4 separate regions of the Homo sapiens genome follow, and all the other regions are linked to region 1. The links come from fine-mapping of genetic effects on plasma protein levels. A gene starts in region 1. Each other region holds a variant in brackets. All regions are shown on one strand. Distances are between the middles of the regions.

Region 1 (5,265 bases):
AGTTTAACTGTTGAGAGAAGAAACAGTCAGCATTTACTATACTGATGGGGGAAAAGTTCTCTAGAGGTTATTACACTGAGCTTTGGGAGAAAAGTCTCTAGAGGTTTTTGAATTTCTAAAATGGAGCAATATGCAAGTTATTTATTTCCAGATCCTCAAAGTGGGTTATCATTACCTGCAGGCCAACCAGATTCCATGAGGGAGGGTTACTTAAAATTATCTGATAGTAAATTGATAGTAAATTTAAGAGTGAGGAATAAAATTAACTTTAAACAACCATGCTTGAAACTAAAATTCTAATAGTTCAAAGAGTATTTTGAGCTCCAATGTCCCACAGCTTCCCAAAACCCTCTCATCTTAGAGTTTTTCTTTAGATTGTTATTGCATTTTGTTCATAGGCTAATGCATTACCTAAATATAGATAGCCATTTTTAGTATAAATTCAAAAAGCCATAAATGTTTCATAATTGAGCACATAATTTGAACTAAGAGAGATTTTCCACTCATCCCTTTTCACTATTGCAAATTGCAAAATACTCAAGTAATTACTCCCTTAATAGTTCAGTGCTTGCGACTATATATATTTTATGAACATCACAAGCATTTTTTTGCTCCCCAGAGCAATATTGGGAATGGGGTGCACAAAAGAATTTAACTTGTACAATTAACCAAATTACCCAGAGCTTTGATTCAAGATTCCTTCATTAAGCCATTAATATAATACATTGTTAAGTGGTGGGTTGTCCAATTTTTATGATACTTTTCATTTCAACTCAATGGCTGCAGTTAGAAGGAAAAAACAGCATCTGCAAGATCAGCAAGATGATGTAAAACCTCTACACTAGAAACATTTTTTTTTCTGTTCCACAGTTTGTTTGTGGGCAGCCAATGCCAGAGCACTAATAAAGGAAGTGATTTGAAGTCTCTGAAAGTAGTAGTCATTTATGCTTACTCAATAAAGAAAAGGGAAAATAAATGCTTGATTCCTGTGACCTCAGACTCTTAAACAGAAAGCCACTGGTTTTGTTATAGCATTCTAGACATACTTAGCAGTAGGCAGCCAGTTTGTAACTCTATCCCACTTTAGGCTTCAATACATATTTCCCACTAGAGCTTATATATCCCAATGTAGAGTGTCATGTATTTACTATTTTGGCTTTGTTCAGTGATATGCTTAGATAATTGATGTATGTGGGAAACTGATACACAGAGGAAAACTATACCAAAAGCTCAACATTTTTTATTTCTAAACTTAGATACAGCACAGAAAATCTAATGCTGAAAAAGATTCTCATATCTGTTATTAGAGGTGGTGTAAATTATCTGAATATGAGTTCTGCATGATTTCAGTTAACTCCCTATGTTTATGTATGATGGGAATCTAATTATGCATCATTTAATATACCCTGGAAACCCCATTGCTTTTAAAAGTCACTGCTAATAAATAGAGGAACATGTTTAGTTTATGGTTTATCTATCACTGAAACACTCTGGCAAACGGTAGGTAAATTCATGAAGAAGAGACATTGTTGAAAATTATATTCCTTTTGTAATTACAGTCTATGCAATATTATTAAAGGCCTGAGACATAAACCAAAACATAATATAAATCATAAAAAGTCAGGCTTATCAGGAATAGTAGCAAAAGGTATGCACTTGTATGTTAATGAGAGATTGCAGTAACTAAAGATGCCCTGTCAGGATATCACGTTTTTTGTTTTAGTTTTTTTTTTTTTTTCATAAAAGAGTTTCAGACGAATCCATCACTTTCCCTCAAGATGCAAAATATCCACATAGATAATAATACAATTCAAGTAAATGGCAAAATATAGTAAACTTTGATTGGAAGTCTGGTCGTTTATAAGCCTTCTTGGAAATAAGAGCATCCCGAATAAAAACAAAGAGAATGGTATAAGCATGACTTGAAACTAAAACAGAAGAGTGAAATTGTGAGTTTGTTCTTTACCTTTAACCATGTGCTGTCAGAAAAGCCTCAAATTTTAAACAACACCTGCATTGAAGAGTGTCTCCAATCATCTCACTGGTTTTGAGTTACATGGTGATATAAATAAAGACATGTGATTTTATACTCTCTCTCTAGTCTTTCATCCTCTCTCACTATAATCACTTTAGTATAACCACCAGTTCAATGCTCACAATGAAGGATGAGCTTTTTTTAAAAAAGGATAAGAGATCCAAAATTCATATGACAATGAAATCCTGTTATCAGATTTGTAGTCAATTTGATGCTATTTATTTCTAGCAGTTTGCAAATTCTTCCCCAGTTCTATCAAGAAAATTGGCATGGACTGGAAACTCTTCTAGACACTCACAAAACTTTCTTCTGGAAATATACCTCTGATAGATTCTCAGTAAAAAAAAAAAAAGTCATGAAGATGAAAGAAGTGTTCAGTGGAAACTATTCTTTCCAGTCTACACACACATGCAGAGCCAAATGCTTTATTGTGACTCAACCTTCAATTCAAACTCAAATCAAGTAGGTATGTCCACTGTCAGTACCCCGATATATCAATGCCCATGTGTTAGGTAGATGAATGAAGACACATGTGCAGAAGCAGAGGGAAAAACCAGATCCTACCTTGATTGTTTTTGAGGGTTGACACTTGATGTGATGGGACACGCTGGCAGTTTGGTTCATGTTTCAGGACCCTGGACAGTGCACAATCCCAGGCGGAGTTCCAGAATGAACTAGAGATCAAGTCTCCTCTATTGGACTTCAGTAGGGGCTGCTGCTGTTGCTGCTGCCGCTGCTACTGCTGTTGCTTCTGCTGCTTCTGTTTCTGCTGCTTCCTCACTCCGGAGGCTGAAACGCTATCAGATTGGAGGAATCTGTATCTCACTTAGCCCTAAATAGAGCATTTACTTGGTTCATCAGTCTCAAAGCTCTTGGCAATATGCAATAGAAAGCCAAAAACGGTTTAAATTCACTTGCAGTGTACCTTTTCAGTATGGAGATGTGACAGCTCCACAGTACAGCCAATGATCCTGGCTCTCATTCCCCTTTCAAAGGGACGAAAACCAGAAAACATACAGAGATCAATTGCAGTCCTGCAGTTTAAAGGGGCACTCTCAACTCCTCTGTCTCTCCAGATTATAGTTTTTCCAGTGCAAAATATTTCTCTCTCTCTCTCTCCCTCTCCCCACCCCTAACCCAGTTTAAAAAAAAATCATAACATCCTCATTCTGTTACTAAATTTTATTCCTTCCTGGGTACTTCTTGCAATCAAAACACAAGTAAATGCTGTGGAAAAAAAAAAAAAAAGACTGTTGGCAGTTTCAGAATTTGGGGGTTTTATATCTATAGGTTGAAGGACTGATATTCCCTATGGATATTTTTAAAATTTAGCCATAACAGCCAGCCAAGAGACTGTCCTTTCTGTAAGGTGGCAGAAAGCTTAAGGTATATTTAAAAAGTTTTCAAATACAATAGTTATTGTAGTTTTTGGATATCGCACCAAAGCTAGACAATGTTTTTATTTTCAACCTTTATTTTTGACCATTGCTTTCCTTGAAGCCGTATTTTTTGAATGCCTGGGACAAACTGGTAGTTAGCTCATGCCAGTCTAACTCCCCAAATGGTCACCTCTCTGTCCCTAATGTCATTTTAGGCAAAATAAATTATAAATATTTGTAAATTAAGTTTTCCGAGTCACCAGTCCCCATTGTCACATCAACACTAACTAGAATAAATATATCCTGGTTGGAAATAAGATCCAGTAGTCTTGAGTAAATGCAGGACACTCTTTTCCAACTTTTGTTGCAAAGTGTTTGATGTTGAAAACCAACAGTATTTATTCATCAGAAATGTATCCTACTAATGAAATGCTAGGTTTATAAGATTGAACTAACGAACTACATTCAGGAGGCTTTTATGAACAGCCTAAAATATTACAGATAAACTTTAATGTGAAATGAAATAAATTAATGTTTGGTGAAATTAATTTATACATAATTATAAACACATATTTTCTCTTGTAAAACAGAAAAGGGATCTAAACATTCTGACAAAGTAGTCTGCACATGTTTGAGGATGGCTAAGTTTCAGAAGGTTATAGTTCTGAGTAGCAAAGTGGAGGTAAGGATGTGACAGAAGTAAGATCAGACTGTTTGCAGCCACAAAAGTTAATGGCAAGAGTATTGGAGAAATCAGGAGAATCATGGGAAAAGAGATGGAGCCAATAAGAACCAGGCAAAAGGCTGTGTGCAAGAATCTGGTGTAGCAATATCCAGGCATCATATTGAGCACAACCAGAGGCAGCCATAGGGCCAACAAATCTCATGATTTGAAGTTTACAATTCTAAATCACAAATGTGACTGGAATTTGTGGCTTATCTTGTATTTTGCTTGAATAGCATTGCTTTGAATAATTCATAAATCACAAAAAGAGTATATTAAAAATGTTTAAACATTTTGTATTCAACAATAATGAAAACAACACAGAAAATTTGCAGTATGCAGCTAAATCAATATTTAAAGGAAAATGTATATAATTAAGTACCTATACCAGAAATGCAGAAAAGCATAAAATTAATAATTAATAAGCTAATTATTCATATCAAAGAGTTGGAAAAAGAATGGCAAAATAAACTCAAATAAATTATAGGGGGGAAACAATAAAGAGAAGAGAAGAAAGTAATGAAGTAAAAAACATACAAAATACTCAATGAAAAAACCTATGAACATTTCATCAGGTGGTTTACAGTTTGATAATCTCTGAATAAATGAATGTTCTATACCAGTAGAATTGGCTTAATTCCTTTCTTAGATAGCACTTTGTACTAGGTATCTAAGAAACTTCCAAACTAAATTATCTGGGGAGCCCAGGGAGGGAGAGCAGTCCAAGAGTTCAGAGTATCCCATCCCCATCAAAGAACTGTACAGGATGGAAGGAGCCACTAGTACTTCAAGGAACCCTCTCCAGGCACATTGATAGAGACAGCATTTATATGCCTACCACAAAGAGGGTATGAGTTGCTGGATTTCTACAACTATAATCACATGAGACTTCACCCCTTTTCTACAATTTTTCAAAAAGGTTCTACCCCCACCTGGATGGCAGCAGGATCCAAGAAAGATATTGACACTACCATTTATAGGTAGGTGGCCAGAATCCACCTAAAATCTTTTCCCAAAGTTGCATTTTGAAAATAGAGAAAAATCACAGTAAGAGAAAAGAGTGCCTCGTATACACCATATGCTCCCTTTCCAGGCTCCACATTATATCAAACTCCAAGTTCCAAAGA
Region 2 (5,000 bases), 1.3 Mb before region 1:
CTTCCCCATAAAAATGCTAATGTACCAAAATAATCATATAGAGAGCCTTGTGACTTTCTTCAGATGGAAAGATAAAGCTACCTGGAATGGGAAGGTGGTAAATAAAATAATCTTTAATATGCATTTGCTTAACAGTCATCCTGGATAAGGCACAAGCTTCTTTAACTGCAACTAATGGGCACATTTACTCATGGATTGAAACTTCCAATGTTAATTATATTATATTATTTACAAAGAATTTATTTTTACAAATGGCATTTCATTCCAATTTAGTGTACGTTTGGCTCTTCATCGTTTTTATTACTCTGATTTAGAAAATCTCACTGCAGAGCAGATGGAGTTTTCAGCACATGTGGTTTTATATCACAGGCACTTAAAAACATAGCCACAACACAAAGCACTTCCACAATACTGAGATACAACGATTGTGTTTAGATTAATGTGTTATTGTAAAAAGCAAGCTGATTTTTTCCATTTTTAGTTTGTCAGTTCAGACCAGTAGGATTTCCTGAGGATGCTACTTGCAGCTCTGCAGGCCTGTGGTTGATTTTTTTTTTTTTTTCAATTTTCTGCATTTCACTGTCAAATTCCTTGAAAGAATAGTCTCTATTCATAACTTTCTCACTCCCCATTTACATGTCCATCCACTGCAGTCTTGGATTTGGCCCCACCAATTAACTGATTTTACTCCTGTCAAGGCCATCGATGATCTATGAGCAAATCCAACAAAAGCTTTGGAATCCTTCCCTTGTTTGACCTCTGGAGACTCAGCACTACTGATAACCCTGCCTTCCTGTGACTCCCATGCTGCAGCCCCATAGATGACACTGAGCAAGTGCTCAATAAATATTTGTTGAATCAATGATGAAATGAATGCAATTTCATGTCGCCAAAAGACATTAATGTGAAACATTAATGTGAAACAAACATGAAGGTGAAAATAGGCATTTTGCCCTGTTTTATTTCAACAAAAAAAGTGTAACAATCAGAATCTGCTGATAAGAATATTGCTTATCTCGTGAATTTTTCCGCACCTTTTCATTCTTGTCATTCTTGAATACCAACACAAGGCCCATGTCATCTATGAAGCACCTGACATTCCTCCATCCTATCAAACTTAGTTCTACTTATAATTCTATTTAGTATGTGAAATAAATCCTATTTATATTTATATTTACTATGCTCCAAATGGTTCCCAATACAATAGTTGTTTATTGTTTATCACTACACTAAGTTGGAAATACCCAAGACATGGAAACCCGTATTTCTCATCGTATTGCTCTTAGATAATGCCTGGCAGGTATATTTGCTCCACAGCTGTTGGATTAAACTTTAAGGAATAATCCCTTAAATATACAAGGTTCTAAAATATATCTGTAAATCACTTAAGCATATTAGTTCCATTATTCTATATGCTTAAATATTTGAAAGTGAGTCATTTTTTTTCCTATTTAATAGATTAAATGCTTTATGGAAATTTTCAAAGCTGTGAAGTGGGTAGCTGTAAACTTTCTTTTTAGTAACATTTTAAAAGTTTTTAAAGTAAAACTTTGATCTGATATCGTATTTAATTACATTGCTAGGTTAAATACAGCAATTTAAGTGAATAACATTATACGTGTTTTGTGCGAATTACATTTTAAATAATCTTCCTTTTTGAGCATTTTCTTATTTTTCTGACTTCGCTGTTTAAAATGCATTATACTTTATATTGCTTTACTTTCTTTAGGAACTAAACAATACTAAAAATAGAGACAAAGATTCTTAAAACTGACACTTTTAAGGACTCTATTTAGTGACTAGTTGGGGGCAGCAGCCACTCTTACAGATTGGCCTGGTCTTAAAAGATTAAGACATGCCTGTAAAGCTTACTGTAAAAATATTTTATTGTCTTTTATGTCACTCTTTCTCTCATCTTTTTTTTCTATGACATTTACAAAAGGTAAATTTCAATTTTAAAAAAGTTGAAATGTTACATGTTACTTTCTGTGTCTCCCATACATGCTAATTTAGATTGTAATTGACT[C/T]CTGTAAAGTAATAAAAAGGAAATCTCCACACCAGAGTATCACACACATAACGTTGAAATTACATGCATTCCCTAGGCAATATCATTGTGTTTCAGTGAGTGCATTAAAGGGGAAAAAAAAGGTCTGGAGCTTGGGAGCTCCTGGCACATTCCACAAGCAAGGTGATAGTGGGAGGGTAAGGTGCATGTAGGACTCTTGAAGCAGAGGTTGGGGGTAGCAGTCAAAATAGTGAGGGAAAATCAAAAACATCTGAATAGCTTACATCCCTCTGCCAAACCTTAACATTGAAGTCATGGGTAGGGTTCCTCCTGGAAATGCAGTGAGGATTAGAGTAAGTCCATGGACAGTAGGATGAGTCTTTGGCTGAGGAAACAGATCACTGAAGTCTGACAATTTAGGTCCCAAAACGTGTGTTGTGTCTTGGGGAACAGTGAAGGACATCCCCCTATAACAAGTAGAGTAGACTAGTGACTAAGCCCTGGCTTTAGGAACAAAAGACACACATTCAAATGTTGGCTCTCCCACTCATTAGCTCTGAGGCCATGTCTAAATCACTGATCCTCTCTGAGTCTTGGTTTCTTTTTTAAATTTTTTCTTTTGAGACAGGGTCTCGCTTCTGTTGCCCAGGCTGGAGTGCAGTGGCATGATCTTGGCTCACTGCAGCCTCAACTTCCTGGCTTAGGTGATCCTCCCACCTCAGCTTCCAGAGTAGGGGGGAACACAGGTATGTGCTACCCCACCACCCCACCCAGTTAAATTTTTTTTTTTTTTGAGACAGAGTCTTGCTCTGTCACCAGGCTGGAGTGCAGTGGCATGATCTTGGCTCTGCAACCTCCAACTCCCTGGTTCAAGCGATTTTCCTGCCTCAGCCTCCCGAGTAGCTGGGATTACAGGTACGCACCAGCATGCCCAGCTAATTTTTGTATTTTTAGTAGAGACGGGGTTTCACCATGTTGGCCAGGATGGTCTCAATCTCCTGACCTCATGATCCACCGGCCTTGGCCTCCCAAAATGCTGGGATTACAGGTATGAGCCACCACACCCAGCCTTTTTTTGTATTTTTAGTAGAGACAGGATTTTGCCATATTGCCCAGGCTGGTCTTGAAATCCTGGGCTCAAGTGATCTGCCCACCTCGCCCCCTCAAAGTGCTAGGATTGCTGGCATGAGCCACAGCACTGGGTGCGTCTTAGTTTCTTCATAAATGATTAGATGCACAAACATTTTGATGATTAAATCACATACACGTACAGCATTTCCTAGTTAACGGCAACATAGGAGCCCAAAGTATGGCAAAAACTATACTTTTTCCTTTCCCCTTTGGAATGCGTCAGACCTACAGCATCATCACAAAAGTTTGTATTACCCGTTTGTTCTGCTCTCCACAACCCCTACAAACAGTTTACTCTCAGACCGAATACATAGATTTTTATTCTTTAGTTAAGAAAATTACCGTATTTGTCAGGAAACGGTCTCTAATTTCTCTCCTTAAAATTTCCTTATAAATGTATGAAGCCTTTTCAATAGGACAGAGACCCAAGTCATCTTAATTCGGGACGGAGCAGCACAATAAGCATGGTCTACATTGAGTATACCCTCAGTTGACTGAAAACTTCATCGACGTTACAGACCACCTTTTATCACCAAGGGAGCACGTCAGTACGTGGTTCAATGCCCGCATTGCTGCTAATCTAGTCTTCTCTTCCCTGAAACCCACTGCTCCTTGTTAATGCTTGCTCACTATGTCTGCCACCACTACTTACTAGTGACCCAAACCAGAAGACACAGAATCATCCTTGACTTCTTATCATTCACCCCATCTGCTTAGCCACTAAGACCTATATATTTCATTGTCTCATCAATTTTAGAGTCTTTCCTCCTTTTTACTGCTTTAACCCTAGTTCCATTGCTCATTATCTCTTGATAGAACATAGAAGAAGCCTTACAGCCGCTCACCGTTTCTTTCCACTCTTAGACCCCAGGTTCCTGCTGTCACAAAAACAATCTGTTCATATGGAAGATCCAATCTTGTCACTCCCTTACTTGAAAACTTCTATTAGTTTTCCTATTAAATGGTAGGAAAATAATTGAAATTCCAAATCATTGATAGAGGTCACTATCCCTCGCTTCTTGCTACCTTCCTTTGTCTCAAATTTTATGGCCCAATTATATCAAGGAGACTTTGGTTCCCTAGGGACACACTTGTGGGTTTTTGCAAATTGTTACATCTGCTTAGATTTTTCCTTCCTAATTTCTTCTCATGCGTAACACTTGTTAACTGTTCAGGCTTGACTCAGATGCTCTCTCTCTCTTCTCTCTCTCTCTCTTTTTCTCTCTCTCCCTTGTTTTAAGAGGTAAGGATCTCACTCTGTTGCCTAAGCTGGAGTTCAGGGGCCTGGATCATAGCTCATTGCAGTCTTCAACTCCCGAGCTCAAGCAATCCTCTCTCATTAACAATCCTCTCACTTCAGCTGGGAACACAGGTGCATGCCATCACATCTGGCTAATTTTTAAAAATTTTTTAGTAGAAATGAAAACCTTGCTATTTTGTCTAGGCTGGTATGGAACTCCTGGCTTTGGATAATTCTCCCACCTTGGCCTCCCACAGCTCTGAGATTACAGGCTTGAGCTACTGTTGTTGGCCAGGGTTTCTCCTTTAGAAAAAATGCTTGCAAATCCCTAGAATGGTATCATTCCTTTGTTCTTCCATAGAATTCTGTGTTGATTAAGATTCAACTACTTACCACACTGCATTAACATGGTTTCTTCATCTGTCAGGGTGTCACACAGTACCAATAATATTTTGAAGAAAAAGGGCACGTCTTAGTCTCTGCACTTCAATTAGCTCCTGCTACCTAGACTGCCAGAACTAACCAGATTTTAAATGTGTTGTCCACCTGTTTATTAAATTCTGAGGGCCATCCCAGTCCCCTCCAGTAATGTATCTCTTTGAAATAGAAAAGCCAGATTTAGAT
Region 3 (5,000 bases), 870 kb before region 1:
ACTTCAGGTTAAATATTTTGTCCCTTTCCGTTTGTCATAACTAAAATTGAAGTCACAGAAGATGTATATTCCTGAGAGGTTTTATACCTTTTCTGGGGAACATTCTTTATATAACACTGCTTGTCATGGTTTCTGGTGGTCAATAAGTACTGAATAATAGCAATCATCAAAGGAATAGCAGCAGCAGTGCTAGGCAGCATGCTAAATAAACTCTTGAACTACATTATCTCATTTTACCTCCATAATAACACTGCAATGTTGGAACTAAATATTATACCCATCATGCAGATGAGTAAAGTGAGAGAGAAGGTTAAATAACTTGCCAAATTGCACAAAACTACTGTATTACAGAGGCAGAACTCAAACTCAGGTATGTCACGCTTGTTCTTGCTTTAACAAATGAATAAGTGCAGGACAAAATGAACTCAATTATGGTTCATCACTGTGGTTTTATACTGGGAAAAATTGAAAAGGGTTGAGCAGAAGTTTAACTTAGTGAGTGCCTCACTCTATGTGGTCTTTGTTGTATCAAACTCTCAAGGACACCAAAATATCACTATGGCCTCAATGAGTAACAAGAAAACCTGAGAAAGTGAATCACTGGGCCAAGGATGCTAGAACCAGGATGAAAGAAAAAGAGTTCAAGAGAAATACACAGGGATTATGACATGAATACCTCCATCTGGCTAATAGCCATCAATAGAAGGCAGCAATGTCGACTCATTCTTTTTTTATAATTATGTTAAACTTCTTGTGTTTAAGTGAAACACCATGCTGAAACTCATCTTCCTGTAACAATGATTCTTGGCATTATGCAGCAACTTAGAGCCATCACATTGCTCAATGACATTGTACTGCAGATGTACAAATGAGGCAGTTAAGAAAAGGTTCCTGGGGAGAATGCCGGATAAGCCAACTTTTACCAGGGAATTTTTTCTTTCTTCCTTTCCAATTACCTTTCTCTCCTCCTTCCTCCCTAGTAGCTCCCTTAATTTCTTTCTCAACCTCTCCACATGTTAACTAACATCTAAAAACTGCATTTTTGGCAGTTTATTTATTTCAATGTCAGTATTTTTCAAAGATGGTATATCTCACGAAGTGTCTCACTGGAACAATTGATACTGCCATTTGTATAATTAGTCACCAAAATTATTTGACTAAATGACTCTGAAAAACAGTTATTGTTAATCATATTTTGTACATCAGGAAATAAGTTCAATGTGTTTAAGGGGCTCATAAAATAACAAAACTAAGACAAACCTGAAGTGGAAATAAATAGCATTCAACAACAGGCTATAATTTAAAAATATCAGTTGATTTTTGGATTCATTCAATCCTATCCCAGAAATGACTATTTTTCATAACACTGTGTCATATGTGGGTGTTTGGTCTTTGAGAAAAACAGTTGGGTGGGTGGGTTGCAGCAACTGCTAAATGTATCTGGAAGACAACTGAAGGAGTTTAAAAGTGATCCCTTTATCTCTGCCTTCCTTATTAGTACCTACTAAAGAGTAATGAATCTCCTGGGTATTGAAATAGTCCCCAGAAAGAAGCACAATGATAATTTCCATATTAGTATTAAACTCTTTAATCTGAAGAACACAGTCCAAAAATCATTGCAGGGGCAATTTGCAAAGTTTCTTTAGATAGGGTAGAAACTTAGAATGTAAAAACTTTAGGAAAGAAAGGAAAAGAAGACACAAGAAATAGGTGTCCAAATTTAGAGGCTTAGATCACTCTCTTTCGATCTGATCTTTTTCCATCAAATCCTGTCTTTCCATTTCCATACAGTTGGGTTATCATCTATATATAGAAACTTCCAGATGCCACTCCCTCATCTTCAACCCACAATAAAAGTCAAATGTCTTCTGCATTTATCAAACTAACACATAGTAAGTCTGTAAGTGGCAATGGAGACCAAAAATCTCCTTGGCATTCTCAACTTACATATTTTACATTTTCAGCTTCCCCAAAATATCCTGCATGATATTTGAACTGCAGAATTACTGTGCCATTTGCAAAATGTCTGATTATGCTTTTTTTCCAAATTCCAACCCATGCTAATGTGCCCTAAGATACCACATATTGCTACCCTCTTAAGGCATTTGAATGCGAAATTATCATCCACAATACCATCCATCATAAGAGAGGAATAAAGACAGATTACCTGGGGTTAAGAGGATGACTGACATAGTGATGAGTGAGCATACAACTAAAATCACCAGCAGAGCAATAGCAATTCCCTTCCAGTTTCTCTGTGGAGGGCTGTTACTTCCCAGTTCCTACCGAGATAGAAAAAAAAGTTTTGTAATTATTCATGCTCCAAGAGAAATGTATTCATAAAGGAATGATTCAGTGCATGGCACAATCACAGTTTGAAAGCTGATTAGAATCCATTTCCTCTTCAGTAGTTCATTTAATTATTCAAAAGTGCACATATTATAAATGGCTATCTTTTGGGGGACAATCTGCTCTCTCTGTGAGATAAACCAGCAGCGTTTTATGCTTGCTGTCCAAAATGTAGATGGTGTAAAAATGCATTGACTATAAACACCAGGATGATAGCCAAAATACTCTGCAAAATAATTATTGAAATAGAGCGAGTCCATTTACATGTATTCTTGCTACAATGGAACCTACAATAAAGATGTAAATGTAAATGTTCTTGAAGCACTACG[G/A]GCTACTTTCTAACTGGATGGGGCAAAGACTAGAAATGGGAAAATCATTCAAAATGTCCCTCACTGCAGAGCAGCGCACATTTGTTAACCAAACAGGTCTTTTTTAAACAGTTCTCCCACCACTCATAAAAAAAAAAAAAAAAAAAAAACAGGATTTAGTTAACTAAATTAAATGAGTCCTTCTATACCAGTGGTTAATGACACTGTCTTGCTGGGCAACATGCATGATATTGGAAAAAGGTATGGTTGATGGGGAAAATAAACTTGTACATCTCTCACGATGCATGTGGTAAAGCTATTCATTCCTCCAATGATCTGTGCTCTCCTGTGTTGACTAGATATGTGTGGGCATAATTCACCAAAGCAAAGCACAGACCACAATGATTTGAAATGAAAGTCAGCTTTTTTTGCAATACAGTTTATAAAACACTGAGCTTCTCATTTTTTTCTTCCTACTCCATTTCCCAACTGCTTTTCATCCTTTCTCAATACAGCCTCTTTATTTAGAAATAGCTAACAGATTTGGTGATAAATGAAACAAAATATGAAGATATCCAGCTCACTACATGTGCACAAATCACACCAGAAGCCGTAGAGCCGCTTTGTTGTCAACAAATATAAACAGAATAGAAAACATTTAATAAATTTGTACATGAGTTCCTGTGACTCACAGATTAAAACATTGATGTCAATATTCATATAGTTATTTTGGTATTGAATTGTGCCATAAACCCGGCAGATTTAAAGAACTAGACTCTAAATAAATACAAGAAGAAACCATGCATAGGAGGCATTTTGTTGTTTGTTGTTTCCCTTCTCAGATAAATCGCTCTAAGTTAGTCTTTCATTCTGATAAACCAAATCCAGGAGAGATCAATTCCACTTTTTCTTAAATGACTTGCTCCACACCTCTTTTTCAAATAATGCTTATTATCCAACACTTCTATTCCTCTTGCACTTTAGGATTCTCATTCATATTTTCCACGTAAATCAATACAGTGGGTCCCCCAAATTATCAGCTTTAGAGAAGTGATATAAAGACAGTCAATAGTTGCCTTGTGACCATAAACCCTTATCTGGAATGCAACGTTCCTGCAAGTTTCTAGGTGAGTTTCTTTGTTAGAATGTGTGTGCTGTGATGATTGCTGATTCTCTATAATGATGCCCTACTTCAAGGCTACTCAGAAGGTAGAGTGACAGAACGAGAGAGGCTGCTGCTGTAAATCAAAACCTACAGTGGTCTGAAAGTTGGGAAATACTCATCTCAAGAACTGAGACAGTGAAAAAAAGGGCAGTAACCAACAGCGAATGGGTATCTGGGCCAAGAACCATAAATACTTTCCTATTTATTAACTCTAACAGAAGCAAGCACATATTATTGTTTCACAATGTAAGAACAGGAAAAAGAATAGAAATGTAGCAATTATAACTGACTTTTCAATTCAGTAAGAGAATCAAGAAAAAATTATAAACTGAAATTTACTGATTATGATCTTGATATGCTGTCACTCCAACTCATGACAAACCATTTGAGAAATGACTTTTGACTGTGTTTTTCAGTTTGTGAATATGATAAAACCATGTAATGTCTACCAGACATAGTCTAACAAAGAGTAATAATAGCTTATATATATTATTATGTGTCTGGTATTGAAATATTTTAGATTTGCAATCTCACATAATCCTCAAAATAATCTGGTAAGATTAGTGTCATCTTCACAAATTTGCAGATAAGAAAACGGGATTTGAAGAGATTAGTAACATATCCTTTTATCACTAATAAGTAGGAGAGCTGGAGTTCTAGTTCATAAAATCTGATTATAAAGATCACACTTAACCACTATAATGCCACTTGTAAAGATAAATATTTCTAGAACAAGTACATTAAAGAATCAATAAATCAATAAGTTATTTGGACCCATACATAACTGTACATCAATACTTTTTATTTGGGAAAATTCACAGTAATATGTGGAATTCAGTAATGCTATCCTGAAGTCAGTAATGTTTGCAAATAAATGTATATTTTCCAAGTCACAGCTGGCTACGGAAGTCCACCATTTAAAAAGTGGTAAAACAAATTTGAGCGAGACATATTTTTCTGTTCATAAAGTGATGCACATAAGAATGTGTGGTTCCTCTGAAATGACTCATCAATGCTCAAGGCATATACAAGTCCCTATTTGAGAACTGCTGACTTAATGAATGTAATATAATTCTCCCCTTTCCATCCACCTTATATTCTATTACCATTACATTTCTAAAGCATGGTGTTACTTACGTTACTTTTTTTCTCCAAAGTTCTTTAACATCCCTACACTG
Region 4 (5,000 bases), 790 kb before region 1:
ACAAAATGAAAATAAAGTAGGAAGTCCTAGCTAAATCAATCAGACAAGAGAAAGAACTGAAGGGCATTCAACTTGGAAAGAAAAAAGTCAAATCATCTTTGCAGATGATATAATCTTATATTTGGAAAAACCTAAAGACTCCACCAAGGACTATTCAAACTAATAAACAAATTCAGTAAAGCTGCAAGACATAAAATCAACATTAAAATAGCCATTTCTATATGCCCAGAATAAACAATCTGAAAAAGAAATCAAGAAAGTAATCCCATTTACAATAGCCGGAAATAAAATAAAATAGCTAGGAAGTAACAACAACAACAAAAAGAACAAACAATTTCTACAATAAAAACTGTAAAACATTGATAAAAGAAACTGAAGGAGACCCAAGAAAAATACAAAGATATTCCGTGTTCATGGGCTCGAAGAATCAATATTGTTAAAATGTCCACACTACTCAAAGGAATCTGGAGATTCAGTGCAATTCCTATCAAAATACGAATGCCATTCTTCACAGAAATAGGAAATACAATCCTAAAATTTACGTGGAATCACAAAAGACCCAGAATAGCCAAAGCTATCCTAAGCCAAAAAAAAAAAAGAAAGAAAAGAAAAGAAAAAATGGAGAAATTACATTACCAGACTTCAAATTATACTTCAGAGCTATAGTGAACAAACAACATGCTACTGGCATAAAAAGAAACATAGACCAATAGAATAGAATAGAATAGAATAGAATAGAATAGAATAGAATAGAATAGAATAGAATAGAATAGGAGAACTCAGAAACAAATTTATACATATACAGTGAATTCATTTTCGACAAAGGTCCTAAGAACAATCTCTTCAATAAATGATGATGGAGAAACTGGATATCCACATGCAGAATAAGACTAGATCTGTATATAAAAATCAAATAAACATGGATAAAAGACTAAAATCTAAGACCTCAAACTATGAAACTACTGTACAAAAACAAGAAACAAAAACCACTGAGGAATCAGGACATTGTAGTTGGCAAAGATTTCTTGAGTAATAATCAACAAGCATGCGCAACGAAAGCAAAGATGGACAAATGGAATCATATCAAGTTAAAAAGCTTCTGCACAGCAAAGGAAACAATCAACAAAGTGAAGAGACAACCTACAGAATGGGGGAACAGATTTTCAGACTATCCATCTGATAAGAGATTAATAACCAGATTACATAAGGAGCTCAAACAACTATATAGGGAAAAAGTCTAATAATGCAATTAAAAATGGGCGAAGATCTAATAGACACCTCTTAAAAGAAGACTACAAATGGCAAACAGGTGTATGAATAGATGCTCAACATCACTGATCATCAGAGATATGCAAATCAAAGCTACAATGAGATATCATCACATCCCAGTTAAAATGGCTTTTATTCAAAAGACAGGCAGTAATAAGTGCTGGCAAGGATATTTAGAAAAGGGGACCCTTGTACACTGTTGGTGGGAATGTAAATTAGTACAAGCACTATGGCAAACAGTTGGAGGTTCCTTAAAAGACTAAAAATAGAGCTATTATAAGATCCAGCAACCCCACCACCAAGTATACACCCAAAAGAAAGGAAATCAGTGTATCACAGGGATACCTGCACTTCTATGTTTATTGCAGCCCTATTCAAAATAGCCAAAATTTGGAAGCAACCTAAGTGTCCATCAACAGATGAGTGGATGAAGAAATTGTTGTACTTATACACAATGGAATACTATCCAGCCATATAAAAGTATGAGATCCTGTCATTTGCAACAACATGGATGGAACAGGAGGTCATTATGTTAAGTGGAATAAGTGTGGTGCAGAAAGACAAACTTCACATGTTCTTACTTATTTGTGGAAACTAAATTTTTTAAAAAAAAATTGAGCTTACAGAGATAGAGAGTAGAATGATGGTTACCAGAGGCTGGGAATGGTAGTGTGGTAGTGGCTGGAGGGGGGATTGAAGCGGGTTTTGTTAGTGGGTACAAAAATATAGTTAGATAGGGTGAATAAGATCTATATTTGATAGCAAAACAGGGTAACTACAGTAACAATAATCTATTCTATATTTTAAAATAACTAAAAGAGTATAATTTTATAGTCTGTAACACAAAGAAAGGGTAAATGCTTAAGGTGCTGGACACCCCATTTACCCTGATATGACTGGTATGCATTGTATTCCTGTATCAAGCATCTCCTGTACCCCATGTATAGGGCCGGGTGCAGTGGCTCACACCTGTAGTCCCAGTACTTTGGTAGGCCAAGACACACAGACCACTTGAGCCCAGTAGTTTAACACCAGTCTGTCAATTTTGCAAAACCCCATGTCAACAACAACAACAAAAAATATATGTATAAATACACAAAAAAATCAGCAAGGCATAATAGTGCACACCTGTAGTCCCAACCACTCAGGAGGCCGTAGCAGGAGAATTGGTTGAGTCCAGGGTGGTCCAGGCTGCAGAGAGCCACGATCACACTACTGCACTCTAGCCTGGGTGACAGACTACCACCCTGTCTCCAAAAAAAAAAAAAAGGAAAAAAAAGAAATCGGATGTATCTCATAAATATATACAACTATTATGTACCCACAAAATTAATATAAATAAATAATTAATTTTGAAAAAAGAGAATAAAAAGAAAGCATAAAATGGCTGAACAAACTATGGCATATCCATATAATGGGATACTATTCTGCATTAAAAGAAAACAGAGACTGATACACACACCACAGCATGCACGAATCTCAAATGCATTAGATGAACTTTGGAAACCAATCCTGAAAGGCTACATATTGTCTGATTTTATTTATATAACAATCTGCTAAAGCAAAACTATCTGAACAAAAAACATATTGGCGCCTACCAAAGAGTGAGAGTCAAGGAAAGGTGACTAAAGTGGGGCAAGAGGGAGTTTGGGCTAACTATTCTGTATCCTAATAGTGGCAGCAGATATATATAGCTGCCAAAACTCAGAACTGTTCACTAAGAAGGATGAACTTCACTGTATGCAAATTACATTTCAATGAAGTTGACAACAGAAAAAAGAAAAAGAGAGTAAAAGAAAGTTTAAATTTCAA[C/T]TGGAAGAATCAGTTTCTTTACTGAAAGATGAAGACTATTCATACATGATTTAATGTACTCTGAAAATGGACCTCACTATGAGAAAAAAATTATTGCTAAAATTAGTAGAGTCTGTAAGTCCCTAGAATCTCCCATATTCACATAATTGTCTTTTCAGAACATTTCATTTTATGTACCTTGAGAGGGAAGGATACATGCAATTTGAATAAGACTAAGCAACAATTTAAAATCAAATCTTGAGAAGATTGGTCCCACGCAAATATCTTGATGTTAGGTTGATGAAAGATGCAATATCTGTCTTTATTTTTAGCCTAAGAGAACAACCTACAAACATAGCTATTTATATGGAATTTTTAGATTTTAATACAAAAATGAGATTTGTTTGATGTCTGTACTCAATAAATGTGCCTTGGTTCAGTGATTTCTGTGTTTTGTTTTGTTTTACTTGAAATCTGTAGTTCTTCCGAAATGAATGCAACCATATGCCTCATGGAAATCTTCATTTATTACAATTGGTTATACAAATGTAAGTCCCTTAACAACACGCAAAATCTGAGATCCAAACAAGTAATCTGAAACAAGAAACTTTGCTCTGAAATCAATTTTCTCCATCCACATATTTAATTAAATTGTGCTTCCTCTGACTACTGCTGGAAATACCAAATTGATGTAACTATAGTAAGTAGTCAAAATAAACATTTTACTAAACACTGTTATACATAGAAGTGCTCAATAAAGTGTCATTTTTAAAGTATTAAGTATTTCATAGCTGAATAAGATTACCTGACACAATATGACATTACAGTTCAAAGATTTTGTTCACGGCTAAGTTTTACTTGACTATGTGGATAACTGACAGTGTGCTTACAAATATTAAATTCAAAAATATGAGTTTACTATGTCTCAAATGAATTTCATGGAAACATGGAATAAAGCCACATTATGACTAAGTGGCAACTTTTCTGACCAAGAATGGAAGCAGATCTTATCGCTTCTTTTTCTCAAAGCATCTTTGTAGAAATATATCAGCAGCCAAAAATGAGTTCGGAATACATTTACTCACACGTACAACTCATTAGCACATAATATCTAGAACTATAGGTAATTAAGTTTCTTAATAAAGAACATATCAAACAGAGCATGATAAACTGAACTGTAATAGAAGATAATCCCTAGACAGTCGAGCTCACCCACTATGAGAATGTTGCCAGACATATCATCATGACAACAAAATCTGCAATCCAGACTAATGAGAACAGCATTCTAAGTGACAAGCATTTAGCATGTGCAGCCTGTATGTTAAAGTATAAGTAAAATTGAATTTAAGTTCTGTTGACAACTTCTGATAACAGCTAACATTACTGTCCAAAAAATATTTAAAAATTAGAGTTTTGATGGAAATGATACTGCTAGTGAGTAATAAAAGGTAGCGCCAAACTGAGTGGGGTAAACAGTGCAAAATGAGAGGAGAAAAGCCTTTTGATCCAGACACAAAACCCCGGGTCCATCTTGGTTCTCTTCTCCTCTACCCTTTGCCATATACAATAAACTTTTTCTTCTCAATTGAAAAAAAAAATCTTTTTCAATTTTTTTCCCACAAAAATCAATATATGCTGATTAAAGTAAAACAAAAATACAAATAAAGAAAACTAGCACAAAGAATACCTATAATTATAACAGAGAAATAATTACTATTAATACTTGATTTATTATGTTCATCTCTATTCATTCATGTATGTCCCTAGGAAACTTCATTGATACCCATAGTTCTAATTCCTAACTACCCATAGATGATTGGCAAATCTATCCCCAGCTCAGTAAACTTCCCTGAGTTCCAGATATACATGCATACACACACACACACACACGCACACACACACACACACATTCATGCGGTTTGACTTCAATATATAAGTGT

Which allele goes with the higher level. Positions count from the first base shown, and alleles are read on the strand shown. Strength reflects both the effect of a copy and how common the allele is.
As copies of C replace T in region 2, the plasma level of the protein whose gene starts at base 2,797 in region 1 goes down (moderate association).
For the plasma level of the protein whose gene starts at base 2,797 in region 1, allele G in region 3 goes with a lower level than allele A (moderate association).
In carriers of allele T in region 4, the plasma level of the protein whose gene starts at base 2,797 in region 1 tends to be higher than with C alone (weak association).

Evidence for each region. A credible set is the group of variants that fine-mapping cannot tell apart. PIP is the posterior inclusion probability: the model's chance that the variant is causal. The UK Biobank Pharma Proteomics Project read protein levels with antibody pairs (Olink). The fine-mapping took linkage between variants from a reference panel, not from the people measured, so its PIPs are less certain.
Region 2: its variant is the best candidate, but not a certain one, in a credible set for the plasma level of the DPP10 protein (UK Biobank, PIP 0.61).
Region 3: its variant is the best candidate, but not a certain one, in a credible set for the plasma level of the DPP10 protein (UK Biobank, PIP 0.73).
Region 4: its variant is the best candidate, but not a certain one, in a credible set for the plasma level of the DPP10 protein (UK Biobank, PIP 0.81).

The regions. Positions count from the first base shown.
Region 1 is chr2:114,440,173-114,445,437 of GRCh38, reverse strand. DPP10 (dipeptidyl peptidase like 10) reads right to left here and starts at 2,797. Exons shown (of 26, transcript NM_020868.6): 1 at 2,600-2,797. The coding sequence starts at 2,659.
Region 2 is chr2:115,729,153-115,734,152 of GRCh38, reverse strand. The region is part of intron 8 of DPP10 (dipeptidyl peptidase like 10); the gene reads right to left. Among named protein-coding and RNA genes, the nearest start is that of DPP10-AS1, 570 kb to the right of the region's middle. The variant C/T (reference allele first, on the strand shown) is at 2,027.
Region 3 is chr2:115,306,521-115,311,520 of GRCh38, reverse strand. It overlaps DPP10 (dipeptidyl peptidase like 10), which reads right to left. Exons shown (of 26, transcript NM_020868.6): 2 at 2,168-2,282. Among named protein-coding and RNA genes, the nearest start is that of DPP10-AS1, 150 kb to the right of the region's middle. The variant G/A (reference allele first, on the strand shown) is at 2,679.
Region 4 is chr2:115,225,463-115,230,462 of GRCh38, reverse strand. All of the region lies in intron 1 of DPP10 (dipeptidyl peptidase like 10), which reads right to left. Among named protein-coding and RNA genes, the nearest start is that of DPP10-AS1, 67 kb to the right of the region's middle. The variant C/T (reference allele first, on the strand shown) is at 3,082.